7 separate regions of the Homo sapiens genome follow, and regions 1, 2, 3, 4, 5 and 6 are each linked to region 7. The links come from fine-mapping of genetic effects on gene expression. A gene starts in region 7. Each other region holds a variant in brackets. All regions are shown on one strand. Distances are between the middles of the regions.

The links.
Region 1: its variant is fine-mapped to the expression of TRG-AS1 in whole blood (INTERVAL, PIP above 0.99).
Region 2: its variant is fine-mapped to the expression of TRG-AS1 in whole blood (TOPMed, PIP 0.97).
Region 3: its variant is fine-mapped to the expression of TRG-AS1 in monocytes after R848 (Quach 2016, PIP 0.95). The same link has a PIP of 0.9 or more in monocytes after Pam3CSK4.
Region 4: its variant is fine-mapped to the expression of TRG-AS1 in whole blood (TOPMed, PIP above 0.99).
Region 5: its variant is fine-mapped to the expression of TRG-AS1 in T cells (TOPMed, PIP above 0.99).
Region 6: its variant is fine-mapped to the expression of TRG-AS1 in whole blood (TOPMed, PIP above 0.99).

What each region holds. Positions count from the first base shown.
Region 1 is chr7:38,359,466-38,363,741 of GRCh38, forward strand. All of the region lies in intron 3 of TRG-AS1 (T cell receptor gamma locus antisense RNA 1), which reads left to right. It also overlaps TRG and TRGV2. Among named protein-coding and RNA genes, the nearest start is that of TRG-AS1, 20 kb to the left of the region's middle. RefSeq lists enhancers at 3,489-3,538, 3,922-4,021. The variant C/T (reference allele first, on the strand shown) is at 1,998.
Region 2 is chr7:38,288,908-38,293,512 of GRCh38, forward strand. It overlaps TRG and the pseudogene TRGV11. Among named protein-coding and RNA genes, the nearest start is that of TARP, 18 kb to the left of the region's middle. The variant C/A (reference allele first, on the strand shown) is at 2,763.
Region 3 is chr7:38,305,428-38,310,032 of GRCh38, forward strand. It overlaps TRG. Among named protein-coding and RNA genes, the nearest start is that of TRG-AS1, 34 kb to the right of the region's middle. The variant G/A (reference allele first, on the strand shown) is at 2,483.
Region 4 is chr7:39,212,140-39,216,744 of GRCh38, forward strand. All of the region lies in intron 4 of POU6F2 (POU class 6 homeobox 2), which reads left to right. Among named protein-coding and RNA genes, the nearest start is that of SNORA20B, 110 kb to the right of the region's middle. The variant C/T (reference allele first, on the strand shown) is at 2,374.
Region 5 is chr7:38,370,811-38,375,415 of GRCh38, forward strand. The region is part of intron 3 of TRG-AS1 (T cell receptor gamma locus antisense RNA 1); the gene reads left to right. Among named protein-coding and RNA genes, the nearest start is that of TRG-AS1, 32 kb to the left of the region's middle. RefSeq lists a silencer at 3,678-3,972. The variant C/T (reference allele first, on the strand shown) is at 2,061.
Region 6 is chr7:38,387,083-38,391,082 of GRCh38, forward strand. AMPH (amphiphysin) reads right to left here. Exons shown (of 21, transcript NM_001635.4): 20 at 2,722-2,823. Among named protein-coding and RNA genes, the nearest start is that of TRG-AS1, 48 kb to the left of the region's middle. The variant C/G (reference allele first, on the strand shown) is at 1,599.
Region 7 is chr7:38,339,290-38,343,894 of GRCh38, forward strand. TRG-AS1 (T cell receptor gamma locus antisense RNA 1) reads left to right here and starts at 2,132. Exons shown (of 4, transcript NR_040085.2): 1 at 2,132-2,510. It also overlaps TRG and the pseudogene TRGV6.

The DNA of each region.
Region 1 (4,276 bases), 20 kb after region 7:
GGGCCCGGAACCAACTTCCTTTTCGCATCTGCAGACTCATGGAGGCAACCACTCAAGGCCACTCTGAGAAGGGTTGAACGTGCTTTAAATTAAAAGGACTGAGGATCATGTGTGTTGGTGTGTCCTGGACTCTGCTCTAAGGTAAATGTGTGTGTGTGTTTGTGTGTGGGGGTTGTGCCTGTAATCCTGTGTGTGTGACCTCCTTATTAGAAGATTTTTGTTCATTAAAGTAGGAGTGTGAATTTGTTTGTTTGCTTGTTTGTTTTTAAAGTAGAACTGGGTGCCATGTCATGCAATATTTGGAACATACTTAAACTAAAAACTTGTTATTTATCTGAACTTCCAATTCCCCCGGTATTGTATATTTTATTTGTCATCCCTACCCTCAGAAAGCAGACTAATATCTGCAGTGCACCTGGCTTCACAGATGAAAATAAGGGGACAAATCAAGTACAGTAATATTATTGTGAAAATTCAGTAAGGCATTCACAGATTATCACCACCTCTGTAAGAAGTATATAGAGACACATGTTTGAAATATGCATAATGAGATGGAGAACAGTGTCCCTCTCAGTTGTTGTGTTGGGCTAGCTCAGAGAGTTCAGTTTCTGCTGTCATCACAGCTGGGAATGAGAAAGGGAGGGGGCTCTGGTTGGTCTCCCTCTGCCTCTGGAGCACACATGCAGGACATGAGGCTGCTGTAGGAGCAGCTCTGAAAGCTGAGTTCTCGGGTCCTTGTGAAGGAGGGAAGCTTGCCTGCCTTGGAGCGTGAAAAAGTCTTGCAGGACAGAAGTCTCATGGTTTAAAAATGGGAAGGGAGAGGATTGAGATCACACTAGAATGCACAGAAAATTCTTAAAACAAAAAAATAATGAGAGAAACTTCATCAAAATGTGAAAAGAAGTATAAAGCTACAGTGCTGAAGAGAGGGCAATACTGGCACTAGAATGAGAAGATTCATGGAACACAGTGGAAAATCCAGAAAGAGAGCCACACGTATGTAATATTTTATCATGTGATAAAGTGATATGTTAATACCCACAAGGAAATAGTCAATTATTTTATAAGTTCTGTTTTGGGTATTGACTTACCATATGGAAACAAATATTATTGCATTTCGTTCTTACCAGATATAGATAGTGATTTAGTTGTAATAAAAACAAAATCATTACACTTAAACAATGATGAATTGCATAGAAATTCTAGGTGAGATTGGCCTTTCTAAGCTTGACATCAAACTAGACACCCTAGAAAAACTGATAGATTTTAATGCTTTTTTTTTCAAAGTTCAATTCACCAAAAGATGCCAAATGTAAATAACAACAAATGAGGAGAAATATCTTCAACACATTGGATAAAGGGTCAGTATCTTTAAAATAGTGTATATTAACTCTTACAAACTAATAAGAAAAAATTAATCCTCCAAGAGAGGAATAGGCAAAGAGTATGACAAGGCAATTCACAAAAGAAGAACTATAAATGACCTATAAAGTTGTGAAATAATGTTAGTACTCCCAAAGATGAGGGAATGCAAACTGAATTTACAAATCTCGTTTTCAGAATCACAGAGCTTGGATTGCAATCATTATCAAGTTAAAGTATATGACTCAGGGAATGTTAATTAACCCCCTCAATTTCTAATGTTACATTCAACAGTACTTTAAACCCTAATGAAATTTCTGTGTAGATTAAATAAAATATGCATGTAATGTGCTTAGTACATTAACTACCAGAATGTCAGTACCCATATGTAGCATCAATATTATTATTATCGTTATTCATTTTTTTGAGACAGAGTCTCACTCTGTTGCCCAAACTGGACTGCAGTAGTGTGATATTAGCTCACTGAAAACTCCACCTACCAGGCTCTACAGATTCTCCTGCTTCAGCATTCAAGTAGCTGGGATTACATGTGTGCGCCACTATAGCCAGCTAATTTTTTGTATTTTTAGTAGAGACAGGGTTTCACCATGTTGGCTAAGCTGGTCGCAATCTCC[C/T]GGCCTAAGTGATCCTAACGACTGGACTGCCCAAATGCTGGGATTACAGGCATGAACCACCGGGCCTGGCCAGTATTATTATTACTAATACAGTAATTATTGTATAAAAATTCCTGATAGATCAATGATGCCATCATTAAATAATGAATGCATAAAAACATTCAAATAAATGATATGGACGTCTTTATGCATACTTATGAAGTATGTGCACCTTTAGAAGTAAGACACACAGTCCAGACACAGGAAAATATAAGATTGATTAAAATATATAGAAACTGAATATCAGAAAGAAAATATAAATATGGCATTGAAATAGAAACAATACATACTCCGCTATGACAAACAGTGAAAAAACTCAAGTGAACTGCCAAAAATATTGTTACCTATAGTGTCAGGGAGAAAAGAAGAATGAGAAGTCTACAATGGAAGCTAAAATCTTCAAATGCATCATCTTTTATAATTTTGACTTCACTTCCATGTAAATGTTTTATATATACAAAACAGATATGAAACAAAACAAAGTAATACAACAAATTTCCAAAATGTAAAAAAGAAAACTGAACAATTAAAGTAGCTATATCAATGTTGACATGAACACATAGAGAAAAATTATTTCAAATGATTTTGTGGAAAAAGTATTCTGATTATGTACCCAAAAAGGAAAGCAAGAGAAAAGCAAAGAAGGAAGGAAGGAAAACGAAGGAGAATGGATGGAAGGAAAGAAGAGAGGAAGGGAGGGAAGGAGAGAGGGAGAGAGGGAGGGAAGGACGGAGGGAGCGATGGAGCGAGGGAGGAAGGGAGAGAGAAAAATAATAAAAGCAAGCAAAGAATTAAGAAAAAAGAGAGAGAGAATAAAAGGGAGGGCAGAGGGAGAGAATGTTCAACTGCATACCTAGGCCTGGTGTTTCAGTGGTCATTATAGTATTGCTTATATTGTTATAGACATAAGGAATAAGCACCAGTCTCAGCTGCGGTTTCTGGATCATGATGGGATACACAATTTAGTATAAATTCCCTTCCCATTTGTTGTCCAAAATATCTTGCTTTACAGCTGGACCCTAGGGGTACCCATTTGTCCTAGGAAGCAGAGTGAGTGGGCCTCCCCCATGTCCTAGGAGAGCTAAGAGAACCTTGCTCTCAGCCAGGCTGCTTCTCTGAGGCTTAGCTGAGATGGCGGCTTGGTCTTCAGGAAAGTCCTGGGGGAGGGTGGGGAACAGGGTGCAGCTGCTGCCAGGGGAGTGTAATATTGCAGGGGAGATCAGGAGTTAAGCAATGTTTCTCTTGTTCAGCACACGGTAAATTTGGTGGCAGGAAATGAGAGGGGGCGGCTCTATCTTGTGTACCAGAAGCAGCCACAAGGCAGATTTTCAGTGTGGTGTAGGGCGGATCTGAATCACTGTGCCCGTCCCAGGTGGCACAGTAATAGACCCCAAAGTCATTTTCAATTAGATTTCGCAGTATCAATCTCAAGTTGTTCCTTGTGCTTGCGTAAGTATAATACTTCCCTGGACTGACTCCTGATTCCAACACAACCTTGGAGTTGTAGGAGTCATAGTACTGAAGACGCTGTGGGGCCTTCCCCTCCTGGTGTAGGTACCAGTGGATGTAGCCGTTACTTCCTTCAGCAAGATCACAAGTGATTTCAGCAGATGACCCAGTCTGCCTGATGACTGACTTCGTTCTCCCTTCCAAGTTGGAAGATTTCTGACTGGCTGCAATGGGAACAACACAAAATATAATGAGGAATTCCTTAGTATGGTACTCCTTGCAAAAGAAGAAAATAAAACAAAACCCGTGATCCTCTCTGTAGGCAGCGCACTCACCAGGAGACAGGAAAGCTAGAAGCACCGCTAGGGCCCACTGCATGCCTTCCTCTCTGGGGCCTTGGAAGGAAAGGGACCAGATGAAGAGGAGCAGAAGATCCTCTTAAAACTCAGGTTCCACTCAACAAGGAAGTGATCCCTAGCACAGAAGACAGTAGGAGGAGGTGGTCTTCCTGAGACACAAGCAGAGGGAAGTGACTGAGGATCTGTCTAAGAGGACTCCCAAGCCTTCCTCCCTCCCAGAAGGGTTGGTGCCTGGGAGGACCTGCAGAGGAGCCCCTGCCTCTCTGCTCAGGTCCGTTCTCCGGCGCCCTCTTGTGGCAGCTGAGAGCAGGCCCTCTGCAGAAGAGAGCCAGGGGCAAGGAGAGCTCAGGCCTGCAGCAGAGGGAGTGCAGAGGTGGGGGAAGCAGACCCTGGAGTCAGCAGGCCCAGCCCTAGGAGGGGGCAGTCCCACAG
Region 2 (4,605 bases), 50 kb before region 7:
GTCACTCTACACTGCTCTTTTGAGGATTAAATAAAATAATCCATGTAAAATACTTAACACTGACATTGTGAAAAGCTGAATTCCATCTTTTCATTCACCTATTTCTTGAAAAGTTCATGTTCTCAGGCTCTGTATTTCCTTAACAATCTTCTTCCCTTTGCTTTTATGTATGCATCAGGTGAGAGGTGAGGTCTGTTGAGGACTCACTCAGGCGCTCAGGTCATTCTCCCTGTGGACCACCATGGTCAGGAATCATGGCGGACAGGATGCGGGACTCCAGATTCTGAGTCTGCACCTGGAAAGGGGCTGACCTGCCATGGAGGCTCCTGGTATTCCCTCATTGGGCTTTCAATAGCATTTCTCCTCTTATCCTATCAGGATGGTACAAGCTGATTCTCAGAAGGGAGAATGGAGAAAAAATACGTTGCAATTACTTCAAGGACTGTAAGTAGACTGCATGTATGGCAATATGCTGTCAGATATCCATAGTACTAAAGGTATAAATAGGAGAAAATCTTTGAAACTCCGGATTTTTCATCATTAATTTGTTGTTTGAAAGTTTCAAAGAAGTGAGAGAGGACTTTTACAGTTTTACAGTTTTATATTTTGTTTCATTATTTTTTGAAAGTTCCCAACCACCCAATGATTAATCATGGAATAAACATAAAATAATTGTCAATCATTATTTCTTATTTATTAATTTCTGAGGGGTATTATTATGGTTATTTCCTTTACCGATGCAGGAAGCATGTATTATCTTTCTTCTTAACTATCTAATCCTATTTTACTCAGGATTTTTAGTTTTCTTTGCAGAACCCTGAAAGACAAGATCTCCAAAGCATAGCCCCCATCCTGAGATCCCCCACTGTGCCTAGGAGCTGGGTTCCACTGCACAGTGCTTGTTTTGTCCCAGCACTGAGCCCTGAGTGTGAAGTGAGCTGCATGCTCTTCCTCTAGGACACAGGATTTATACTTTCATCTCTCATATACCCCAAACAGGTGATTGTTTACTTACAGATCTACTTACTTGTCCCTAGATTTCTTCAGGATGGCCTCAGGTGCGAATAAAAAGCACACAGTTACTATGTTTGACAGATCACTCTAACTTTGAAAACCTCCAATGCTCATGAACCAAATGGGAAAATAATGATAACAGCAGGGAATATCTATGTAAAATATATACTGCTTCCTACTTTCATTCTGAACCAGTTACTAGAAATCTCTACGTAGCGAATTACTAGACAGATGAATTTTGCTCTAAGCCACCCACTCTGTATTTTCAGAGTTCCCAGATATCCTAATGTTGTAGGAAATAGTGTCAAAATGTCCCTAATTTGGATCCTAATTGCTGACACTGATATGGGATTGGGGGAGGGAAGTGCAGGGAAAGGAAGGACGTGGTCCCTGTCGAGGGCCCCACTCCCAGGCCTGTGCCCACGGACCTAGGTGAGGACAGGCACTCCTGCCTCCACGCCCAAATGTTGCATTTCCCAAGACCACCCTGGCCCGCCACGCCTCCATCTTGTGCCTATAAAACCCCTGAGACCCTAGTGGGCACACACACAAGTGGCTGGACATCGAGAGGAACACTAATGTGGAAAAGCACACCTACAGAGACTGGCGGGCTGCAGGCCATCGACTGGCAGAACAAAGCAGAGTTTGGCGAGACTGGCGGGCTGCAGGCCATCGACTGGCAGAACAAAGCAGAGTTTGGCGGGGTGGTTGGAGGAAAGCCTGGCCGCTGAGCAGTCAACTCCAGGGGAAAACCACCTTCCCACTCCATCTCCCGTCTGGCTCCCCCATCTGCTAAGAGCTACTTCCACTCAATAAAACCTTGCACTCGGCCAGGCGCGGTGGCTCACACCTGTAATCCCAGCACTTTGGGAGGCCGAGGTGGGCAGATCACGAGGTCAGGAGTTCGAGACAATCCTGGCTAACACGGTGAAACCCCGTCTCTACTAAAAATACAAAAAATTAGCCAGGCATGGTGGGGGGCGCCTGTAGTCCCAGCTACTCGGGAGACTGCCCAGGAGAATGGCGTGAACCCGGGAGGCGGAGCTTGCGTGAGCCGAGATTGCGCCACTGCACTCCAGCCCAGGCGACAAAGCGAGACTCCGTCTCAAAACAAAAACAAAAATAAAAAACTTGCACTCATTCTCCAAGCCCACATGTTATCCAATTCTTTCAGTACACCAAGGCAAGAAACCCAGGGATACAGAAAGCCCTCCGTCCTTGCAATAAGGCAGGGGGTCTAATTGAGCTGGCTAAAGCAAGTCACCTATGGACAGCCAAACTAAAAGGACACCTTGTAACACAGGCCCACTGGGGCCTCAGGAGTTATAAGCATTCACCCCTAGACACTGCTGTGGGGTCGGAGCCCCACAACCTGCACGTGTGCATGCTCCCCCTAGAGGTTTGAGGAGAGGGGCACCAAGAAGGGAGCCACATCCTTATCGCACGCCCTGAGAGGGAACAAGAAAACTTTTCCCGTTTGGACACCATGAATCACCAATGTGATTCTGCACACCAAGGGAGCAGAATCTAAGATGTCTTCCTGCAACATTCCAGAAGAGCTGCAGGGAGGGCAGGCTCCGGCTGGGCACCCAGCTGAGCAAACCGCTGTGGTTGCCCACATGGAGAAGGATGTGGACAGGCACAGACTCGGAGATAGTTTCTGTGTAGGTTATCTTGACAACTCTAACACTGTGGTGCCTAATCCAGCAGGCACAGTGGTACACCACCTCATCTTCTTTCTCTAAGAA[C/A]TTTATTTTCAAAGTGGAAGTGGAAGTGTGAGCATTTTTACTTACCTCAAGTTTCTTAGTCTTCCCACCTGAGCAATCTTGAGCAGAGATTGTCAAGAAGACATGTAATAAATATTCTAAGCCTTTGTTTGGTTTCTGCCAGTACCAGTGTATGATTTTACTGCTAAAGCCTTGGATGGATGCCTTCCAAGATATGTGGGCACTCTTATTTGCTGGTCTGGAAATAGATATTTCAGGTTGTTCCAACTGCCCAAGTGCAATTGCAAGTGAAGAGAAATTCCCATAAGCCAACGATACGTGAAGAGGTAATAATACAGAATGACTTCAATCTCTTCTGTAGACTGAAATGATTAGGGGGCAACTCACAAACCCAGAGGGAGAAGAAGATAACAGCTACTACCAGTGGCATGCTTTCTGCCAGTCTGGTTCCCCAGGGAGAAGGTAACCCTGTTCACTGGAGGTCTCAAGTCAGTGGCAGAAGGCGGGGCTGTTGAGGTCTCTCAGAAGTACTAGATGAGGTGGTTCCTTAGGGTTCTTCATGAGCTGCTACAGTTATGAGCAGTTCCAGGGTTTCCTGCATCCCATGAGTGCTGGGCAGATCGGGTAAGTGGGTTAACTATCTGGAAAGAAATACCTAGTATGAATGTGTACCTCTAGGGGTGGGGCAGGGATGTTCTCTTGCCCACTCTCCCATTCCCCAGCAGTACCATATTGCAGAAATATGGCTTTGAAAATGTGAAGATAAACCTGCAGTGTTCTGTCCCAATGACTATCTTTCTGTAATTAGCTGTTAATTCAGAACTGCAGTAAGAAACTTGACAAGCATCTAATATCCATTTACAACTTGCTACTTGTCTAGATGTTTTCTTATATTATTTTACTTGATCCTCTCAACAGTCCTGTGCAGTAAGTTTTATGATTATCTCCATGTGTCAAATGAGGACAACGGCAAACAGAGTTTGAGTGACTCATTCAAAAACACAGAGCTGGTAAACATAAGAACTCAGGTGAGTAGCAGTCATCCGTTAAGGAAAATCTGAGTAAAATGAGATATAAAAATTGACAACAAAAGGCACCCATCATTTACTTTTCCTTTGAATTTTTCTCAACATATTTATGGTTGGAAATAGAATAGCTTGGTATTGTTCATTGCAGCACTATTCACGGTAGCAAAGACATGGTATTAACCCAAATGCCCATCAATGATAGATTGGATAAAGAAATTATGGTACATATATACCATGGAGTACTATGCAGCCATAAAATGGAAGGAGATCATGTCCTTCACAGGAAAACGGATGAGCTGAAAGCCATTATCCTCAGCAAACTAATGCAGGAACAGAAAGCCAAACACTGCATGTCCGCATTTATAAGTGGGAGCTTAATGATGAGAACACATGGACACAGGGAGAGAAACAACACACACTGGGGCCTATTGGCGGGCAGGGTGTGGGGAAGGATAGCATTAGGAAAAATAGCTAATGCATGCTGGGCTCAGTACCTAGGTGATGGGTTGATAGGTGCAACAAACCACACAGCACACGTTTACCTATGTAACAAACATGCACATCCTGCACATGTACCTCAGAACTTAAAAGTTAAAAATTTTTAAAAAAGAAATAGAATGGCTTGGTATTATTTATACATATGATATATGTATATATTTCGGTGGGATTTACATATTTGGCTTTATACTCTCTTATTTTGGTTACTTTATTATCATGAGCAATACTGCAGGTCTTGAGTCTATGTGCACATTATTTTTAGTGACCGAATACAATTAAACACTCCTATACCACTTAACCCTATAGAATGTGGGCTGAGTTATTTAAGCTCTTGGGCC
Region 3 (4,605 bases), 34 kb before region 7:
AAAATTCTGTGTTGTTACTTTGCCAGTGTGGCCTTTTGACCTATGAATGAGAGAATCACAACTATAGAAAACTCTTTAAAAAAAAATTGAACCTGATTTTCAAGCCCAACATCTCACAATTAATTCAAAAAGTGAGTTTGTGGCAGGCTGTGGTGGCTTACGCCTGTAATCCCAGCACTTTAGGAGGCTGAGGCGGGCGTATCACGAGGTCAGGAGATTGAGACCATCCTGGCTAACACGGTGAAACCCCGTCTCTGCTAAAAACAAACAAACAAAAAAAAATTAGCCAGGCGTGGTGGCGGGCGCCTGTGCGCTGCACTCTAGCCTGGGCGACAGAGTAACACTTCATCTCAAAAAAAAAAAAAAAAAAAAAAAAAAGTGAGTTTGTTCTGGGCAACTACCATCTCTTTCTATGGGTAGTAAATATCATGGATTAGCTACAATAAAGAAAGGACAAAAGGTGACATGATTTATTTTAGAGAATAAAAATATGTTGGCCACATTTCCAAAACATGATCCTCATTACACATTTTGATCATTTACTTAAGTCTGGGCTGTGAGGTTTTGATCCCTCTCCAGGTATCCCACCCATGATATTATCTGCTAAAGCAAGTTCACAAGAACAGAGAGGGTTTTCTGTTTTCTTAGCCTTTTCCCCTCCAGTGAGAAGAAGGGTCCTAAGGCAGAATGCCGGTGGGGAGCAGGGTGGGGGTGGGGTGGGGGGTGGGAACTCTTCCAAATGTGTGTTCAGCATGACCCTTTAGCCATGGCTTCTTGAGTCACTGCCCATTCTGTCTTGAGTCACTGCCCATTCTGTCTTGACCTAGCTCTGCAGGACTAGGCAGTAAGTCCGGGCCAGCGCATAATTACCCACAAATGCCACAGTTCATTCCTATAAAGTTTTGTTTGTTTGTTTTTGAGACAGAGTCTTGCTCTGTATCCCAGGCTGGAGTGCAGTGCTGCAATCTTGTCTCTCTGCAACCTCTGCCTCCTGGGCTCAAGTGATCCTCCCACCTCAGCTTCCGGAATAGCTGAGACTACAGGCAAGCTCCACCACACCTGGTTAATTTTTGTGTTTTTGTAGAGATGGAGTTTCACCATGTTGCCCAGGCTGGTCTTGAATTCCTGAGGACAAATGATCTGCCTGCCTCAGCCTCTGAAAGCGCTGGAATTATAAGCCTGAGCCACTGCCCCTGGCCCTATTTCCATTAAGTTAATAAACCCAAAGGGTATTCAAAGTGGCCCAATAGTGCACTTGAAAGAGCATGAACTATTTGTTTGGACAGATAACTGCCCCTGTCTAAACATCAGTTATTTCTTTCATGAATAAGTTTATTTACCAGGTTCTTATGACAATCACCTGAAATTCTGAATATGTAGAACATCTATCCCATTTTCTGGCAGCCAGTGGGAACTGAGTGGATATGAATTCCATCTTGTTCCTTGCTGGCATCTTCACCCTGAGCAATTCACCATGACTAGAAGTTTCTAAGAAATGATATAATGGACCTTGCTTTCTCTCTGAAATAATCATGCAGTTTCAACAAACATAGTCTCTAAATAGGAACCTAAGTCAATAGGAAATGATGTCAAATCAGACACTTGGGGGTATAGGTACTGGCATTTGTGGGGTGAAATTGATAGTCATCAGACTCCCTTTCTGGTTTCCTGTGATCACAGAGGCATCATCTGAGGAACACAGGAAGTGCTGCAAGCTGAGGCTGAGGCCTAGCTGGGGCAGAGGGCTGGACGAGGCTCTTCCACATTGGGAAGGATGTGGTCGCAGACATGATAATGGGGCAAGTGCCCATTACCTCAGCTCCAATGTCATGCTAGTTTCCTGGGGGCCATTATATTGGGTCATCATGTCTTTCTATTTTTCTAGGAATTTTATATTAAGAACTAAAGGGAAGTAGACAGAATTTTATATAGAGAATTTATATACAGAATTTTATATATGGTTGCAGCTCTTTGCCTGTAATTGACCTGGAACAGGGTTTTTTTCCAAGTAAATATCAAATCCTCAAAAGCCTGATTTGGTGTTGGTCAGTACCTGAGTGTGTATGAAAAGTTCTATCTAAATACCCTACAGTGAAAATATATGCTTCATTTCTGCTAATGAAATAAAGATTTTTACTTGCTTCAATTGTTTTTACCCAATTTCAATTAGAAACAAAATAGCATTTTCAATGAAACCAAAGTTATCAAGAAATGAGACATTCATTTTCAAAAAAATCCCTCAGCCAATCTGAGAAGTAGGAGAACAAGTTCACATTCCCAGAGTGAAGAACAGGTGCATATCTGTAGCTGTGACGTCCCGTCTGCTCAGGCTGAGTGCCTGAGACAAGGCTGAGGAAATAGGGAACCTGGAGCAGGAGAAGCTGCACCAGGATGAGGAAGGGGAACCTCAAAGAGTGTTCACAGAGAAAATGGGTGTCCTTAGGCCCTGCGCCCAGATCAGTCATTTCTGAGGTTGCTGATT[G/A]GTCAGGATCACATGGGAACTTTACCCATAGCTGTATGACACCATGATAATCAGTCCATTTGCCAGGGTAAAAGTTATTCACCTTGTTATCTTGCTAACTCTTAGAAACTTTTAGAAAGATTCTTTTTCATTATTATTATTTCATCATGATTATCTAACTGATTTCAGGGGAGAGTTGGTCCAAGTTACCACGTGGGCTATGACCTGAAGCCACCTGTCCACTTTTCCAGGTGAGAGTCCTCACTGGTTTATCTGGCCACCAAACGCTCACGGCACAGACCCAACACTTCCATGACCCACACACAGGGCTCTGCTCTGGACCCATGGTGGATGTAGGACCTGAGAGTCCTATTTGGTGTGGAAGTAGAAGAGCTACCTCATCACCTCCTCACTGGGAGAGGAGGGGGTTTCCAGGGAAATCCCAACAGTGCTTTTCAGAGAAAGTCTTTGCAAAATTAGAGTCCCCAGGAAAGCTCTTACTGTAATTAGCCTGGATATAGCTCATGAGCCAAAGGTTGGAGTCATCAGTTTTGTCTACCTCTTAGCAAGTCTTTGAGAAATATGGCCAACTACCCCAGGGTTTCTCAGCCTCTGCATTATTGACATTTTGGGCTGGATAATTCTTTGTTGTGGGGCTGTCCTGTGCATTGTAGGATGTTTAGTAACACTTCTGGCCTCTACTCACTAGATACCAGTAGCATTCTCACTCTGTTTGTGACAGTAAAAAATGTCTCAGACATTACCAATGTCTGCTGGAGAGGGGCTTGCCCTCCACTGTGAATCTCTGGTTTTGTCCCCTTCTTTTGTATTACTACCATTCTCCTGAGCTTAGAGTGTCAGCGGAGATTGGGACAAAATGAAACTCCCACTGAATATCCAGTATGTAAAAATTCTCATCATTTAATGAGCAATATCACTTAATCTTCTTTGCCACCATCTATTTTCTTGAGGAATTGGAGTGGATGTTACAACAAATACCTCTATCACTCAGCATATAGCACTGCAGCTTTGCTAGACCACTTGTTACCTGCTACTTTCATATAACACATGCTAGATTTCGTTTTTGTTAAGTCAAAGTCATAAGTTGTAGGGATTGTTAAAGCCCCTTATTTCATCAAGAAGGATGCCTTCCCTATAGTGGGAGCTCCATAAATATTGACTATCCTTAGGAGATAATTCATATGAGAAATCATATTAGAATGAATGAAAATGTGTTTAAAAAAAACTATAACTCTTTACTTTGTTATGGTGTCTACAATTTCCAAAACTCTTTTACAAACATTGGCTTATTTAATCCAAACAATATTTTGAGGCAGGAAGGGATTCCCCATGGGGAAGAGGGGGTAATGTAAGGCCTCTCAGCTAGTAAATGGTAGAGCTGGAACTAAAACCTATTTCTTCAATGCCAAGCAAATCCACGTAGTGTGCTATACAGGCGAGCATGCAATCATTCAGTCCTGCTTTTAATTCCAGTTCAGCCTGCTGTTAGCTTGACTTGTTGCTATCTGACACCCAGTGCCCTCAACTATGAAAATGAAATTGAAATCCCTATCTACCAGCATTGGCTTAGATAGGTGCATAATACGCCTGGAATAAAGTGGGAGCTCAGTGGGTTCCATATCTTTCACCTCCTTCCTCTCTACTCTGCCTCCTTGTTGAAGCAGGATGAGCACAGAGCTACTGTTAGGAGGCCTAGTTTGGCTTTGGGGTATGCTCTTTTTCTTAGGATTTTAGTTCCTTGACTTGAATGACAATAAATAACATCTCTAGACAGAGGAATTCCCCATCATGAGGTGTGGTGGGGCTCTCAGCATTGCCCTTTAAGTGGAGGCTTTTTGTGGTGGGGCCTCACGACCAGTCGTCGGGCTGCTGCACCCATCCTCTTCCCCCAGAGAGGTTCCCCACATCCACGCCCCACCTCGCAGCAAACATGGGCAAGGAGGAAACTGGCTGCAAATGTCCCATTTATCCTGTACCTGAGGAGGTGGTAAAAATTAATTCACTGAAGAGTTTGATTTAAAAAAATGAAGTTCTATAAATAACAACATACCTATAAATTTGGGATGCTTTTTCCTAAAATATGTCCTTTCGATATTAGAAAATGTGATGATGACAAAAGCTAG
Region 4 (4,605 bases), 870 kb after region 7:
TTCTGTCCTCTTGGCTATGATGTGGGTGGGAAGTGGGAAGCCAGAATGATGTGGTATGGAACATGGACAAGCGAGCTTAAGAAACAAGCTGAGCCTCTCTCATCAGCAGAAGGGGTGGCAGGTAAGGCAGGCTGGACATTGGCCTTTCTCTTGGGAACAGTAAAAGCCAGTAGGGCCTCTTATGAGCAAGGACTGAAACAAATTCTGAGCTCAGGAGATGCCAATGGTGAGGTTTAGGTTCTGAGTGTTTTGAACGAAGACCTTGGAAGCTCTGGGTGGGATTCAGAAATGCTCTACTCAGAGCATTCAGATGAGATCTAGAAATGACCTCCTCCTCAAAGCCCTGTGTCCCTATGTGAAATAAGTGAGTTCTGTGCCCTCTCGTACCTTGCCTTGAGTGCCCCTTTCCCCTTCCAAGTACCATCCATCATCAGCTACACTGGGTCTCTCCATCCCTGCGTCCTTTATCCCATGTTTATTGGGCTTTGGCCTCTGATGACTGTAAGCAAGCACACACCTGTGAAATAAGACGAATAATAGCCATAAACTCCAAAGAAAGAAGATAATTAAGCTTGCTCTGTCACATATTCCATAAGCTCCTTGAAAAGTCAGTGTCTTCCCTTTTACTATTACTTTGGAACACAGATAGCTGTACTAAAGATGTGCAGTCCTAGGGTAAAAACAGAGGTTGTTAGTTGATGTAGCAAAATAAAATCCCCTTTATGGAGCTCATGCAAATGTGTTGGATCCTTTGCTTTTTTGAAACATAGGCAGGAAATGAAGATATATACAGCCTCGATGTGAGTGACAACAGGCAGCAAAAGGGTTAATGGAACGGTAGAGCTGAGTCTACTTCTGGGACAGATGGTTCAGGTTAGTGACTTGTTCTCACAGCACAGGCCAGAATGACCTACTAATCACTGTAGGCAACATGAATGGAGAATATAAATGTGCTACATAGGAGATTTATGTCAAAGTGTGAACATTCCAGTTAAGTCAAGCATAACATTTAAATTAATGACCAAAAATACATTAAAGAGTGCTGCTAAACCTGAACATGGAAAAGCAATTAGGTTCAAGGCCAGTTGAAAAATCAAGGCCAAGGATGGTTTTTCTTCCCTTCACTCTAGCAGGAAACCTGCCCCGGTTTTCTCTGACTCCCCAAATTAAAGCCTGTGGATGCTGAAGTACCTGGGAATAGTTTGGGGATTAGGGATTTCATGTGCAAGTTACATTATATTCCATTTTGTTTGTATGATTGTTGTTTTCACTGAGGTATCCTTTACATACAAGAAAATGCATGGACCTTACTTGCTTAGTTAAATGAGTTTTGATAATTGCATCCACCCATGCAGGCTCCATCAATACAGAAAACATTTAATTATCTCTAAAAGATTCCTCTGTGTCCCTTTGCAGTCAGTCCCCTCCATCCAACCAGGTAATCTGTTTTTTTCCTGTTCTAGAACTTCACATAAATGGATTCATATTATATGTATTCTTTTGTGTCTGGCTTTTCTCATTCGGCATAATGTTTTTGAGGTTCATCCATGTTGTCGTGTATACAACAGTATAGTAGTTCCTTTCTGTTAATTTCCAAGCAGTGTTTCATCATAAAAATATGCTACATTTTGTTTATCTATGACCATTCCAACATCCCAGTGGGCAGACATCACGGAGGTTCCTTGATTGGGTGTCTCTAGGGAAGCACCTTTGGCCACTGTTCTCTTTGGCCCTTGGCCACACCCCTGGGAGATTCTTTCCTGTCCGTTATCTTCCTTGGCCACATCTGATGAGGAAGTTGAGGAATATACCTTTCTTCGGGGAGTTTCTCAGTCCCTGTATAGCTTATAGATGCTGGAGATCTAATGGGCTGCTTGATGTTTCCAACAGATAGGGATGTGTAGCTCCTTTGAAAATGCAGTCCCTCAGAAAAGGGAATGCTTCTTTTCTTTCTGCTTCCAGTCAGTTCCCTGTGCCAAAGTTTTTTCCAAGACAGACATCTTGAATCTAATTTATTTTGCTTTCTTGTTCCCTACACCCTTCTCTTTCAATTAAATCAGCCTTGATGTGAGGGCATTCTGGCCTCCTTGGTGTTCTTTGCACGTACTCCTAGCCCAGGGCCTTTTGCACAGGCTGTTCCCTCTGCCTGAAGCACTCTGTTCCCACCCAGAAAGCATCAAGCCTTCCTTCCTCCTCCTCCCCTGCCCCAGCACTCCTGTCTCCCTTACTCGCTTTCTGCATTTTCTTTTTCCCTAACACTTAGGACCTTTTACAAAATCTCAAAAGTGTTTGGTTTTCTTTATTTGGCCTTTCTGAGCATTTTGGGTGATGCCTACTGTAGCCATCGAGGGCAAGGTCAGCAGCATTGTGATG[C/T]TTGGGCCTGCTGCTGTAGAGGAGAATCTCTGTGTATGATGTATTGCTAATGTGCATCATTTATGTCTGACTCTGCCCCTAGAATGGAAGCCCTGTGACAGGCATCTTTATTTGGTTCAATAAAGTGGCCCAAGAACAGAGAAAGTGCCTAGCTTACTTGTAAAAGGTGCTCAAGTGTGAATGAGTGAATTTTAAAGACTAAGAGTCCAGTAAAGAGAAGTAAAGAGAGCATTCAGTGTAGAGAAGAAGGCATGAGGAGACTAGAGTCTACAGGTTCTATCAATAGCTCTGTCTGTTCAATGAAAATTGGGAATCCAAGGTGGCAAGAAATCAGACTACAGGAGCGGGAAGAAGGCAACACTGAGGACCTTGTATGCTTTGCCTGTGTGTGAGCGTGGCCATCATAGAGCCTGAAATGTTAGAGATGAACATACTTAAAAACAATGCAGTTATGCTATAATTTTTCATGGATATATGTTTGCATTTACTTACTTATGCCTGGGTAATCTCAAGAATTTGAAGCAGCTTGTAATGTAAGAAGCAGGAAGGAGGCCGAAAGTGGTAGCTCATGCCTGTAATCCCAGCACTTTGGGAGGCTGAGGCAGGCCAATTACCTGAGGTCACAAGTTCAAGACCAGCCTGGCCAACATGGCAAAACCCCATCTCTACTAAAAATACAAAATTTAGCAGGACATCATGGTGGGCACCTATAGTCCCAGCTATTCAGGAGGCTGAGGCATGAGAATCGCTTGTACTTGGGAGGCGGAAGTTGCAGTGAGCTGAGATCACGCCACTGGACTCCAGCCTGGGCAACAGAGTGAGACTCCATCTCAAAAATAAATAAATAAATAAAAACAAGAAGCGAGAAAGAGCAAAATCTTTTTAATAGAAAAAGAAAAAACCTAGAGTAAGTTTTGGAACTAGAAGACAAATCAGAACTATATATCGAGTTATATAGTTTTAATTATCTGACAGTAAAAGACCACACCAGTTTGATAAGAAACAGACCTATTTATTTTTGTTTTTCTATTAAGGCAACATTTATTCATTTGTTCAATGAATATTTACTGAACTTTCAAAGCATTAGAGGTAGTGATCTGGACTTAGGACATAGCAATAAACAAAGAGTTCCTTAATGCACATATACGCTACTGGGGGAGTGAAGTAGATGGAGGTGGGGAAGCGTGGCAGGGATGGGGATGTGATGCATTTTATGCAAGGTCATAAGTTGTGGTCTCTACACTGCACAGAGACCCAATGGATGAGAGGGATTAAGCTGTCCAATATCTGAAGAAAGAGTGTCCCAGGGAGAAGTCCTAAGTGCTAAGCACAAAATCTCAAAATCTCCAACAGGAAGGTGTGTTTCTTTGTTGATTTCATATTACATATGGGTCATAGGTGTGCAGTGACTCTGCTGCACATCCTTCACCTTCTAGGATCCAGGCAGAAGAAGCAGCCCCTGTCTGGGATATGTTTTTTTCGTTACAAAGGGAGCAGGGAATGCCAGAACTGCAGTGGCTCTTAAAGCTTCAGCTCAAGAGCTGCTCACATCACTTCCACTCACACGCTGTTGGCCAGACAAGTCACCTGGTCAAGCCAGCTGCTAGTGGTGTGGAGGAGGAAAATAAATAACCCTAAAGGAAGAGAGGAGGAGCACAAAATTGGAAACTATATGACAAGGCGCTGTGTCCAACAGTCATTGCATTAACGATACACTACAGAAGTATTTGACTTAGGTGATTCTTTCCAACACTGAGATTCTAGAATTCTATTAGGTGAACCCATTAGATCACATGGTCTATTCATGTGGTTTTTCAGAACACACACATTAACAATTTCTAACCATAGAATTCAAATGATAAATGTAAAAATGGGTAACGAATATATGGGCCAATTGGAGACGGTTTAAAATAGCAAATTAGGGCATACGAAAGAATGAATTCATTAATGTAACATTCAGGACAAGGCAAAAGTAGAGGGATGACAAGCAGATCAGTGGTTGCTGAAGTGGGGGACAGGTGAATTTAAAGGAGTACAAGGGAATTTGGGGGCTGATGCAACTGTTCTCTGTCTAGATCGTGGTGATGGTTCACTATTTGTGTTTGTCAAATTTGTACAAAAAGGGGGAATTTTATGGTATACAAAATATGTTTCAGTTTTTCCCCAAAAGGAGAAAATATAAGTGAATGCTCTAGGGCTTCACAAAATACCAACTTTCTTTAAAACATAAAA
Region 5 (4,605 bases), 32 kb after region 7:
ATAAGTCAAAGCTCCTTCGATTAAGAGGCGCCGTTTATGCCCCCCGCCTTTTTTTTTTTTTAAATACAAGAAGAACTCATAGGGCTCCAGTTCTGAATTGAGGCTTCAAGTGGCCTGATGTGCTTCTGCTAGCTCTTTGCTTTCTGTCATTGTCATTAGAACAAATCCAGGCTAGCCTGTTGGAGGATGAAACCCTGTGTGTAGTGGAGCTGATTTATTCAGACCCAGGCACTTTGACCAGGCAGTCCCCCTCCCAGCTAACCCAGCAGCTGCCTGACATGTGGCCAAGCCCAGCCAAGATCAGATGAGCTTGGTTTAGATCAGCAGAACAGTCTAGCAAACCTACGCATTTGTAAGAATTTGTAGATGATTATTGTGCTAAGCCACTGAGTTTGGGATATTTGCTACATGGCGTTATTGTGGCAATAGTATGGATAGACAGACAGACAGATAGAATATATGAAGAGAAAAGGAAAGCTAGAAATACATATAATTTTTTTTTTTTGAGACGGAATCTCGCTCTGTCGCCCAGGCTGGAGTGCAGTGACGCGATCTTGGCTCACTGCAAGCTCCACCTCCCTGGTTCATGCCATTCTCCTACCTCAGCCTCCCGAGTAGCAGGGATTACAGGTGCCCGCCACCACACCCGGCTAATTTTTTGTATAGAAATATATATAATATTTTATATATAACATATTATACATGTATAAATACATTTATGTATATTTTTACAATATATAAATATGCATATTTCTTTGTTTTTTCTCTTTATATATATTTTTCTATCTCAATATTTACCATTATTTCTGTATATTTATCTCTATCTTCCTAACACTGCCGCACTCTGTGTGTCCACGTGTATGCTTCTGTCTCCACAGGTCTATCGTTCTCTCTCTCTCCCTATCTCTCCCCCTAACTCCAGTTCTCTCTTCTTGTATCTTTCCCTATTTCTCTGTCTCTCTCCATCACTGTCCCTGTCCCTGTCGCTATATTTATATCACAGTTTCTCTCTCTTCTCTGTTGTTTTCTCTCTCTCCATCTTCCCTCCCTCTCTCGCTGTCTCTCTGTCCCTTTGTCTCTCACCCTCTCTCTGTGTTTTGTATTTCTTTCTCTGTTTTCTCTCTCTCTCCCCCGCCATGATAGAGAACTATACCTCTCCACGTGTCTCTGTCTCTTGCTCTTTTTGCTTGTATGGCCACTGTCCTAGTCATTTTCTTTCCTTCTCACTTCCACTCTGCTCTCTGTCCCTCTTCAACTTTCTACTTTCTGTTGCCGTCACTGTCTCTATATCATGCCCTCTCCCTCTTCATATGAACACTCTGTCCCCTCTTGTGTCTCTCCTTTTGTCTCTATCAAGTCCTCCTTGCCAGTCTTCTGGGGTCCTGAGGGTGTGATCTGCTCACTATGGTGGGAGAGAGGTGCAAACTCACAGATGTAAATGTTCTTCTGCTTCTCCTCGTAATTGTACCTTTACATATCAAGAGGTCAGCATTATGATGATGATGATAGAAGAATTGTTTAAAAAAATAGCACTGCCTTGGGGAGAAAGTTCTAGTGCGCAGACAATTGCTTGTATTTCTATTTCAGTCTGCTGTGAGATGTTCCCTAGCAACACTATGGGAAACAATCTGCTTACCATGAATTATTAGAATTTCCTCACCTCTAAATGGTTGTCTGGGCTCTCTGTATCACTTTGTGACCGCAGTGACGCAGGTCAATAGTGTTTTCAATGAGCTTAAGGGGGCACACACCTCAGTATCAAGAGCACACAGCACAAGGCCTGGAACGTAGTAGGCATTTAATGTGTATCAATGAGGCTGGGCACGGTGGCTCATGCCTGTAATCCCGGCACTGTGGGAGGCCGAGGCAGGCAGATCAGTTAAGCCCAGGAGTTCCAGACCAGCCTGAGCAACATGGTGAAACCCAGTCTCCACAAAAAATACAAAAATTTAGCTGCACGTGATGGCACACGCCTGTAGTCCCAACTACTTGGGAGGCTGAGGTGGGAGGATCCCTTGAGTCTGGGAGGTCAAGTCTGTAGTGAGCTGTGATCGTGCCAC[C/T]GCACTCCAGCCTGGGCAACAGAGTGAGACCCTGTATCAAATATATGTATATTTGGATGGGATAAATGATCAGGTGTGTAGTTTAGAAGGCTATTATAAGGGTGTCAATAAGGCTGAATTATATAACATATATTCTTTCCATAGAAAATTAAAAGGAAAAATGAAAAATTCTGCAAAGAACAGGGTTTGTATATGCTCAGTCTGGGCTGGGGCATAGATGGGAATGAGTAACTCATGCACATCATCACTGATCATCCCGGGCTAAAATAGGAGTGGACAATGGAGAAGATACGAAGCCAGAGTGGATGGATGAAGGGTCCCCAGTTTACGTTCCTGTGTCCTGTGCTGCTCACTGGCCGCTGCATGTTCCCAGAAGACAGCAGCATCTCCTGCCAGTGCTGTGGCCAGGCGGTGTCAGGCATCGTTTCCAGGGAAGTTAAGTGTGTCCCAGAAACCTCAGCCAAAGCTTCACTTCCTGCCTGCTCTTCTTACAGGCCCTGTGGCTGCCTGGTGCCCTGGGAATGGTCCGGTCATGGGCCTCAGCCCAGGATGAGCAGCCAACAATGCAATCCCACGAAGAGTGTGCGGAAGGGAGAGGTTACTTCTCAAGATGGAGCTGCCAAATAGGGACACTTTGGAGAGTCTGGCCTGAGAACTTTTAGTTTCAAGAATGTATTGCTTTGGAAAAGACAGAATAAAAGTCCAAGCACTGCCACTTAGAGGTTGTATGTCCTTGGGAAAGTCACTGTACTTGGCAATTATAACCTTTACCCTGGATACACCATTCATCTCCTGGGGCCAGGGGTTGTGCCACCTTGTTCATTTCTAAACTAAATGATATCTAAGCTAGTCTTTACCACAGTTTAATTCTTACAATAATACTCCAAAGGAGATATAATCAACCACATTTCACAGATGAGAGAGTTGGAATCTTAAAAAGGTTAAACTCTTCGAGGTCATTTGACGAATAAATAATGGAGCCTGGATTTCAACTGAAGTCTAACAAATTCCAAAATCCTGGCTACCGGCCATTTATATTCGTGTGTGTGTGTATATATATATATATAAATTATATAACATATATACATATATCATATGTATATATATTATATATATTTCTTTTTAAGTTATAAAGTATAAGAGACCATGAAGAAAATTTCAGAAAGATTTTAGAAACTCAAGGGTCACTCTCAGCTGCCAGTAAGAAAACAACCTAAGATACTGTTGAATAGTATTCATTCAGTTAATTATGGTGGACCTCAAAAAGTCATAGGAATTTCCTCTAGCACTGTTAAGTAAATAGTTAATGGCCTTTTATTAAAAGACTAATTTTTAAAGTCATAGCAGAAATTCTTGATCCATTAAATGATAGCAAATACCCTTTGAGTGTCAAACATTGTATATATTTATTCTTTTCTTGCAAGCAGAAAATAGGTGTTACTTATCCCCATTTTTCAGATGAAATTGAAGCTTACAGAGAGGTTAAATAACTCCTCGAGGTCACCTAGCTAATAAACAGCACACCAAGAATTTGAACCAAACAGACAAGTCTCCAGAGCCTGTACCATAAGGGAACTGCTTGGCTGTTTATGATTCAGGGATTAATTTCTGTCTTCATGAAGCTGCTGCATTTTGATACAAAATGTTATATTTCCGATTTGATTTCAACTCCCAGCTTCATGCTTTAAAAGAAGTAGTGTTTTGACTGCATTTAGTTATTTGTACAAACCTGTAGCACCCCCTCCTGGCCATTCGAGGTATACCATACATGTTATATTACCCCAATATTAGACCCCAACGAATGGCAAAGACTTCGTATAACGAATGGAAAGGTCCCCAAATGCAAGGCAGGTTCCAACTGCACACCTTATGTGCTTGATAGTTTTAGGCAAGAGACTCCTTCTTGCAGGGCTGTCATTTCCCCCGCCTCAAAATCAGAGGAGTGGGTGATGTTTTTGGTCTCTTCTAGTTCTAATTGTGATTCTGAATTGAATTGATAAACTGGATATTGAAGGAATAGGTGTGGTGAAATGAAAAATGGAAGCTTCTAGTTTTTATTTTGATCCAACAATAATGCATGTTATTTGCTTCCTCTTGACTCAACATTGCTCTAGGAAAAGCCTATTCTATATAGACTCCTTAACAAAAACATTGATTCCTAAAGGTCTTCTGAATGTTTGGATAGCCAATGGCTTTGCAGCCCAGCCTGGCCACTACATGAGGCCGATGACTTTAACAAACTTATTTCAGGCCAGTGTAAATGCAGTGTTCAAAAATCCCACCTAAGAAGGATGGGAACACGGAGGTTTGTGTAGGTAACATGCAGGTGTGTGCACATGTACCCAAGAATGCACACACACATACATGGACACAACTGCAATTGATACAAAAGGCTGAACTGTGCTGATTCTTACAGGTACTTGGTTCTGGCCCAGTCTGGAAAAAAAGAAAAGATCCTTAGTCTAAACATGCATACAAAATAGAATTCCCACCATGCTTTGATGTTATCTATTTATAATTTTCAATGTTTCAATGTTTTGTGGTC
Region 6 (4,000 bases), 47 kb after region 7:
ACAAAGTATAAAACCAACTCCCATCAATTCAAGGGAATTATCCAGTAATTTATATGTCTGCTAAAACAAAAATAAGCAATTTTCAGATATAGAAAACAGAGTCAGACTCTTTACCACGTATGGTCTACCTACTATGTCTAGTATCAATTAAAAAATTATTAGACATGGAAAAACAGGAAAATATGACCAAAAGATTAAAAAGCAAACAATAGAAATATGCCCTGAGATGGCCCAGCTGTTGGAATTAGCAGTAAGAAATTTAAGGCAGCTATTATAAATTTGTTCAAGTATATAAATTGAGAGACAGTAATAATGAAAGACTATAAGTGGGAAATCTCAGCCAAGAAATGGAAACCCATATGAAATAACAATATGGAAATGAAGAATTGTAAGAATCTAATATCTGAGATGAAAAAGTCACTGGATAAATTTAACTACGAACTCAAAGTAGCAGAGGAAACACTCATAGCACTTGAAGGCAGATCAATAGAAATTATCCAACCTGACTACCAGAGAGAAATAGTGAAAGAAAAAGAACAGCATCTTAGCTATCAAGAAGTCCAACTTAAGTATAATTAGAAACCCAGAAAAAAAGAACAAAGAGAATAATTCAGAAAAAAATTAAAGATAAAAAGCAAATGTAGTGAAAAACATTAGGTTACAAGTCTAAGGATCTCAGTGATTTTCAAGTATGAAGACCATAAAAAAAAAAAACCTACCCAAGCACAATATATTTAAACTGATGAAAATCAAAGATACAGCGAAATTTATTAAAAGTAGTCAGGGAAAGTCACTTTGCATACAGAGAAGCAATATTAAACAAATGACAGCTGATTTCTAATTATAAACAATAGAGACCAGAAAACAATGAAACATGTTTAAAGAGTTGAAAGAAAAAAAAATCAACTCAGATTTCTACCTTAGTGAAAGTATTGTTAAAAATTAAGAATAATAAAGACATTTTCAGATATACAGAAGCCAAGAAGATTTGCTGCCAGCAGACTAGCACTTCAGAAATAGCTAAAGGAAGTTCTTTAAGCAGAAAGGAAATTAAGACCAGATAGAAACTCGGACTTAAGGAAAGAATGAAGACCTGGAAATGGTAAACATGGTGGTAAACATAAAAGACTAACTTTTTTTCCTTTTATTTCTTTACAAAATAACTTCTGGTTAATGCAGACAAAAATCCCATTATAAATGGGATTTTTAATATCTTTGAGATGTGTGATGCTGACACCTTTTCTTTGTATTGGTAATTTATGCTTTGTGACTTTTCTTTCTTGAGTATTTCTAAGGTTTTAATAATTTTGTTAATCCTCTCAAAAACCTACTTTCGGCTTTATCAATTTTATCTGTTATAGTCCTTTATTGCATTCATTTGTGAATTTATTTTTATTATTTTCTTCCTTCTATGCATTTTTCTATTTAATTTCTATTTAATGATCATTATGAAATTTTTTTTTAACTCACACTATGATTTATTTGACCCATGGGTTATTTAGAAGTGTATTTTAAAATTTTTAAATCTTTGGGGGCTTTTAAAGATATATTATTGTTATTAATTTTTTGTTTTTTGAGACGGGGTCTTGCTCTGTTAC[C/G]CAGGCTGGAGTGCAGTGGTGTGATCATGGCTCACTGCAGCCTTGAATTCCTGGGCTCAAGTGATCCTCCCATGTCAGCTTTTTGAGTAGCTAGGACTACAGGTGCACACTGCTGCACCCAGCTAATTAAAAAAAAAATTTTTTGTAGAGATGAGGTCTTGCTATGTTGACCAGGCTGGTCTGGAACTCCTGGCCTCAAGTGATCCTCCTGCCTTGGCCTCCCAAAGTCCTGGGATTACAGGCATGAGCCACCCTGCCCAGCAGATTATTGTTATATAAATTTCCAATCTATTTTATTGTGGTAGAGACTGCTTGACCCAACACCTGATGTATCTTGGTAAGTGTGTTGTCAAAAGAAAGAACAAAATGTTGAACATATTAAGTCTTAACCTCAAAGGCAGTGATGCTTGAATTTATTTTTTAAGGGGAGAGCTCATAAATCTCTTTGAGAATAGTATGGAAGTTAGAGTTTTTCTCTCCAGAAAAATATGTTTACAGATGCATTTACTTGCTCTGCATACCATTTCAAGGGCTCACATATTTTATGAATGAGAACAAGATGGGAGTTCTCAGTACCTTACATCAGACCACTCTTTTAGGAAGTGATATTTTTAAAGAATCTCTTTAAGTTGAGGTATAACTTAAATACTGTGTAATGCAGAGATGATTAGGTATATATAGTTCAATGAGTTTTGACAAATACATGCAGACATCCCTCTCAAGATACAAAGCATTTCCATCACTCCAGAGGGTTCCCCAGGTTCTTTCCTCATCAATATCCACACACCCAGAGGCAACCACTTTTGAAGGGGTCTTTTAGTTCACATTCATAGTGTCTGCATTTCCTGAAGACAGGTGTTACAGAGATAACATTCCCAGAAAGTGGTTACGTGATAAGAAACAGTCAACTGTTTGTATTATATAAAAAAAGAATGCAACAGCATCCCAAAAGGGTGTCCTAGAAACCTCGTTAATGATCTATGCTGTCACAAGCCCTTAAGCCCTTTTCAGATGGCTTGTAGCATCTCAGAAAATAGAAACATCTTTAGGAAGTGATTGTGTCCAACAGACCCTCAGAAAAAAATCAACGTAGCCCAAAGCATCTTCCTATCTTTTCTTTTACCTGATCAGCTTCTGAATCTGAGGGGACCACCAGCACCACATCACCCCTTTGTAAGGTAAGTTCATCAGAATTTGCTGCCTCAAAATCATGCAGTGTTTCCACCTGCAGAAGATAAGAATACATAAAAATCAATTTCCCAGCCAGATTTCAAGCAGACACTCTTACAAGTCACTCTCCAACCTGGATGAAAAGAGGAAGATATTTGCCATATCCCAAGGAGGAAGAAGGCCTCTAAAGCCAGAAGGGAAGTCCTATTCTCTGATATGAGGCCATTCATATGTATATTTATTAATAGTAATGCAATGCCCTCTACAACAGGGAAAAGCACTATATTAATCAAATTTTAATTCATCTTATTTTTGTTAGAGATTTGCATTTTATTATCGCTGATGCTTTATTACTGTTTGTTGTTTAACTGGAACCCAAAATGTCTAAAGCTCCTCTAACCCCAGCTTCTGTCAAATAATAATAAGGAAAACCACCACTTGCAGGTTATACAGTAATTACTACTAAATAAAACTCTGTGATCAATTCTGTGTAAATATATTTCCTTCCTTCCCTATCCTACCTTATATACAATGGCAACCAGTTTCTTTTCCTTTCCCATTTTGAAAAAGATTTCCTTAAAATTTTATTATAGAAAAATATTTTAAAGCAGAAGAAATAACATAATGAACCCCTATGCGTCTGTCACCCAGTCTGAATCACTCTACTGTCATGGCTGATTTTATTTTTCCCACCTTTCCCTCAACTCCACCCCTGAGAGTAAACATTGGCTTTTAAAGTGTGTATTTTGCCATTGAGCATATTCATAGAATCACAAGCTGTCAGAGCTGGAAATGGATTATGTTATCCCTAAATTAATTTTTCTGATTGGAAAACTGATACCCAGAGAGAGGGTCTATATGGGGTGCCTTAGGTTATTCTACAGTTAGTGAGGAGGCCAGAATGGGCCCAGCAAGCTCCAGCCGTGCTTGGCACAAGGCTTCTTGGACTGCTTGTGCTCCAGTTAAAACGGAACCTGGCAGGAAACAACCCCTTATCTAGAGGTTTAGCTTTTCCTCCAAATTAATTTATTCATAAATCCATTATAGCCACCCCTGTCCCCACAAGAGGTAGCAAGGTAGCAGTTACTTTCTAATGGAGAGAGACAAAGACAGAGAGAGAGAGAGAGAGAGAGAGAGAGAGAGAGAGAGAGAGAGAGAGAGAGAGAATGATACAACATTTTACACTTTAGAAGAAAAAGAGCTGATTTTTAAATGTAAAATCAAATTTAAAA
Region 7 (4,605 bases):
AATGAAAATATAAATATGACGGTCAAATAGAAACAATATATACTGCACTATGACAAACAAAAGACTTTTCTGTAATACTGAAAGACTTGTTCTGAATAAGAAAAAGTGAAAAAGTTCAACTGAACTGATAAAAATATTGTTACCTATAGGGTCAGGGAGAGAAGAGGAAAGAGAAATCCAGAATGGGGCCTGGTGAGGTTGCTCATGCCTGTAATCCCAGCACTTAGGGAGGCCGAGGCAGGGGGATCATCTGAGGTCAGGAGTTCGAGACCAGCCAGGCCAACATGAGGAAACCCTGTCTCTACCAAAAATACAAAAATTAGCTGGATGTGCTGGCGGGCACCTGAAATCCCAGCTACTTGGGAGGCTGAGGTAGGAGAATCTCTTGAACCCAGGAGGCGGAGGTTGCAGTGAGCCGAGATTGCTCCACTGCACTCCAGCCTGAGTGACAGACTGAGAATCCGTCTCAAAAAAAAAAAAAAAAAAAAAAGAGAGAGAAAAAGAAATCTAGAATGTAAGTTAAAATCTCCAAATGCATCTTCGTTAAAATTATGACTTTAGTTCCATGTAAATAGTTTACATATGCAAAACAAATATGAAACAAAACAAAATAATACAACAAATGTCTAAAATTTTAAAATGAAAACTGAACAAATAAACTAGCTATATCAATGTTGGCATGAACATGTAAAGAAAAATTATTTCAAATGATTTTGTTGAAAAAATATTCGGATTATGTACCCAAAAAGGAAAGAAAGAGAGAGAAAAGCAAGGAAGGAAGAAATGAAAAAAGGAAGGAAGGAAGGGAGGGAGAGAGGGAGGGAGGGAGGGAGGGAAGAAAAAATAATAAAAGCAAGCAAGGAAGTAAGAAAGGAGAGAGAATAAAAGGGAGGGCAGAGGGAGAGAGTGTTTAACTGCATATCTAGGCCTAGTGTTTTAGTGGTATTTATAATATTGCCTATATTGTTATAGACATAAGGAGTAAGCAGCACTCTCAGCTGCGATCTCTGGACCATGATTGGATACATGATTCAGTATAAATACCCTTCCCATTTGCTGTCCAAAATATCTCGCTTCACAGCTGGACCCTAAGAAACAGAGTGAGTGGGCCTCCCCCATGTCCTAGGAGAGCTGAGAAAACCTTGCTCTCAGCCAGGCTGCTTAGCTGAGGCTTAGCTGAGATGGCAGCTTAGTCTTCAGGAAAGTCCTGGGGGAGGGTGGGGAACAGGGTACAGCTGCTGACAGGAGAGTGTAATATTAGGGGGGAGATCAGGAGTTAAGCTGTTTCTCTTTGTACAGAATACAGTAAATTCAGGGCAGGAAATGAGAGGGGACGGCTCTCTCTTGTGTACCAGAAGCAGCCACAAGACAGATATTCAGTGTGGTGTAGAGCAGGTCTGAATCACTCTGCCTGTCCTAGGTGGCACAGTAATAGACCCCAGAGGCATTTTCATTTAGTTTTGGAGGTATAAATTTCCAGCTTATCCTTCTACTTCCATAAGTATCATGCTTTCCTGACTGACTCCTGATTCCAACATATCCCTGGAGTTGCAGATGTCATAGTACAGAAGATGCTGTGGGGCCTTCCCCTCCTGGCGTAGGTACCAGTGGATGTAGAAGGCATTTTCTACAGGAAGATCACAGGTGATTACAGCAGATGACCCCATCTGCCTGGTGCCTGACTTTATTTTCGCTTCCAAGTTAGTAGATATCTGACTGGCTGCAATGGGAACAACATAAAATATAATGAGGTATTCCTTAGTATGGCGTCCCTTGCTAAAGAAGAAAAATCCAAAACAAAACCCAACCTGTGAGCCTCTCTGTAGGCAGCACACTTACCAAGAGACAGGAAAGCTAGAAGCAGGGCTAGGGCCCACCACATGCCTTCGTCTCTGGGGTCTTGAAAGAAAGGGCCCAGATGAACAGGAGCAGAAGATCCTCTCAAAACTCAGGTCCCACTCAACAAGGAAGTGATCCCTAGCACAGAAGGCAGTGGGGAAGGCTGGTCTTCCTGAGTCACAAGCAGGGAGAAGTGACTGAGGATGTGTCTTAGGGGACTCCCACGCCTTCCTTCCAGAAGGGTGGTGCCTGGGAGGACCTGCAGAGGAGCTCCTGCCTCTCTGCTCAGGCCAGTTCTGCAGCACCCTCTGTGGCAGCTGAGAGCAGGCCCTCTGCAGAAGAGAGCCAGGGGCATGGAGAGTTCAGGCCTCCAGCAGAGGGAGTGCAGATATGGGGAAAGCTGACCCCTGGAGTCAGCAGGCCCAGCCCTAGGAGGGGGCAGTCCCACAGCAGGCTCACACCCTGCCCTTCAGAGTTGCAGCAGCTAATGCTGATGCCAGGACCTTGTCCTGCCAGGAAGCCTCTGATTAGGGCTGTGAACCAACTTCCTTTTCACATCTGCAAGGACACTTGGAGGCAACTGCCCAAGGCCACTCTGAGGAGGGTTGAATGTTCTTTATTAAAAGGACTGAGGATCATGTGTGTTGGTGGGCCTTGGACTCTGCTCTAAGGTAAATGTGTGTGTGTGTGGCGGGGGGCGGGGGGGGGGGTGCCTGTAATCCTGTGGGTGTGATCTCTTTATTAGACAATTTTTGTTCATTAAAGTAGGAGTGTAAGTTTGTTTGTTTGCTTGTTTGTTTTTAAAGTAGTACTGGGTGCCATGTCATGAAATATTTGGAACATACTTGAACTAAAAACTTGTTATATATCTGAACTTCCAAATTCCCTGGGTATTGTATATTTTATTTGTCATCCCTACCCTCAGAAAGCAGACTAATATCTGCAGTGCACCTGGATTCACAGATGGAAATAAGGGGACAAAACAAGTACAGTAATATAATTGTGAAAATTCAGTAGGGCATGCACAGATTACCACCACCTCTGTAAGAAGTATATAGAGACACATGTTTGAAATATGCATAATGAGATGTAGAACAATGTCTCTCTTGGTTGTTGTGTTGTCCTAGCTCAAATTTTGCAGTTTCTGCTGTCATCACAGCTGGGAATGAGAAAGGGAAGGGGCTCCAGTTGGTCTCCCTCTGCCTCTGGAGCACACGTGGAGGACATGAGGCTTCCGCAGGAACAGCTCTGAAAGCTGAGTTCTCGGGTCCCTGTGAAGGAGGGAAGCTTGCCTGCCTTGGAGCGTGAAAAAGTCTTGCTGGACAGAAGTCTCACGGTTTAAAACTGGGAAGGGAGAGGATTGAGATCACACTAGAATGCACAGAAAATTCTTAAAACAAAAAAATGAGAGAAACTTCATCAGAATGTGAAAAGAACTATAAAGCTACAGTGCTGAAGAGAGGGCAATACTGGCACTAGAATGAGAAGATTCATGGAACACAGTGGAAAATGCAGTAAGAGAGCTGCATGTATGTAATATTTTATCATGTGATAAAGTGATATATTAATATTCACAAGGAAATAGTCAATTATTTAATAAGTTCTCTTTTTGGTATTGACTTACTGTATGGAAACAAATATTGTTGCATTTCTACCTTACTAGTTACAAATAGTGATTTAGTTGTAATAAAATGAAAATCATTAGACTTAAACGATGATGAATTGCATAGAAGTTCTAGGTGAGATTGGCCTTTCTAAGCCTGGCATCAAACTAGACACCCTAGAAAAATGGACAGATATTATTTTATTTTTCAAAGTTCAATTCACCATAGGTGCCAAATGTAAATAATAACACATGAGGAGTAATATCTTCAACACATTGGATAAAGGGTCAGTATCTCTAAAATAGTATATATTAATTCTTACGAACCAATAAGAAAAAATTAATCCTCCAAAAGGAGAATAGGCAAAGAGTATCACAAGGCGATTCTCAAAAGAAGAACTATAAATGACCTATAACGTTGTCAAATATTGCTAGTACTCCTAAAGATGGGGGAATGCAAATCAAATTAACAAATCTCATTTTCAGAACCACAGAGCTTGGATTGCCATCATTATTAAATTAAAGTATATGACTTAGGGAATGTTAATTAACCCCCCAATTTCTTATGTTACATTCAACGGTACTTTAAACCCTTAATGAAGTTTCTGTGTAGATTAAATAAAATGTGCATGCAATGTGCTTAGTACATTAACTACCAGAATGTCAGCACCCATATGTACCATCAATATTATTATTATCATTATTCATTTTTTTGAGACAGAGTCTCACTCTATTGCCCAAACTGGACTGTAGTAGTGTGATATTAGCTCACTGAAACCTTCACCTTCCTGGCTCTAGAAATTCTCCTGCCTCAGCATCCAAAGTAGCTGGGATTACATGTGTGCGCCACAACAGCCGGCTAATTTTTTGTATATTTAGTAGAGACAGGGTTTCACCATGTTGGCTGAGCGGGTCCAAATCTCCCGGCCTAAGTGATCCTAATGACTGGACTGGCCAAATGCTGGGATTACATGCATGAGCCACCGGGCGTGGCCAGTATTATTGTTATTAATACAGTAATTATTGTATAAAAATTCCTGATGGATCAATGATGCCATCATTAAATAATCAACACATAAAAACATTCAAATAAATGATATGGACGTCTTTATGCATACTTATGAAGTATGTGCACCTTTAGAAGTAAGACACACAATCCAGAC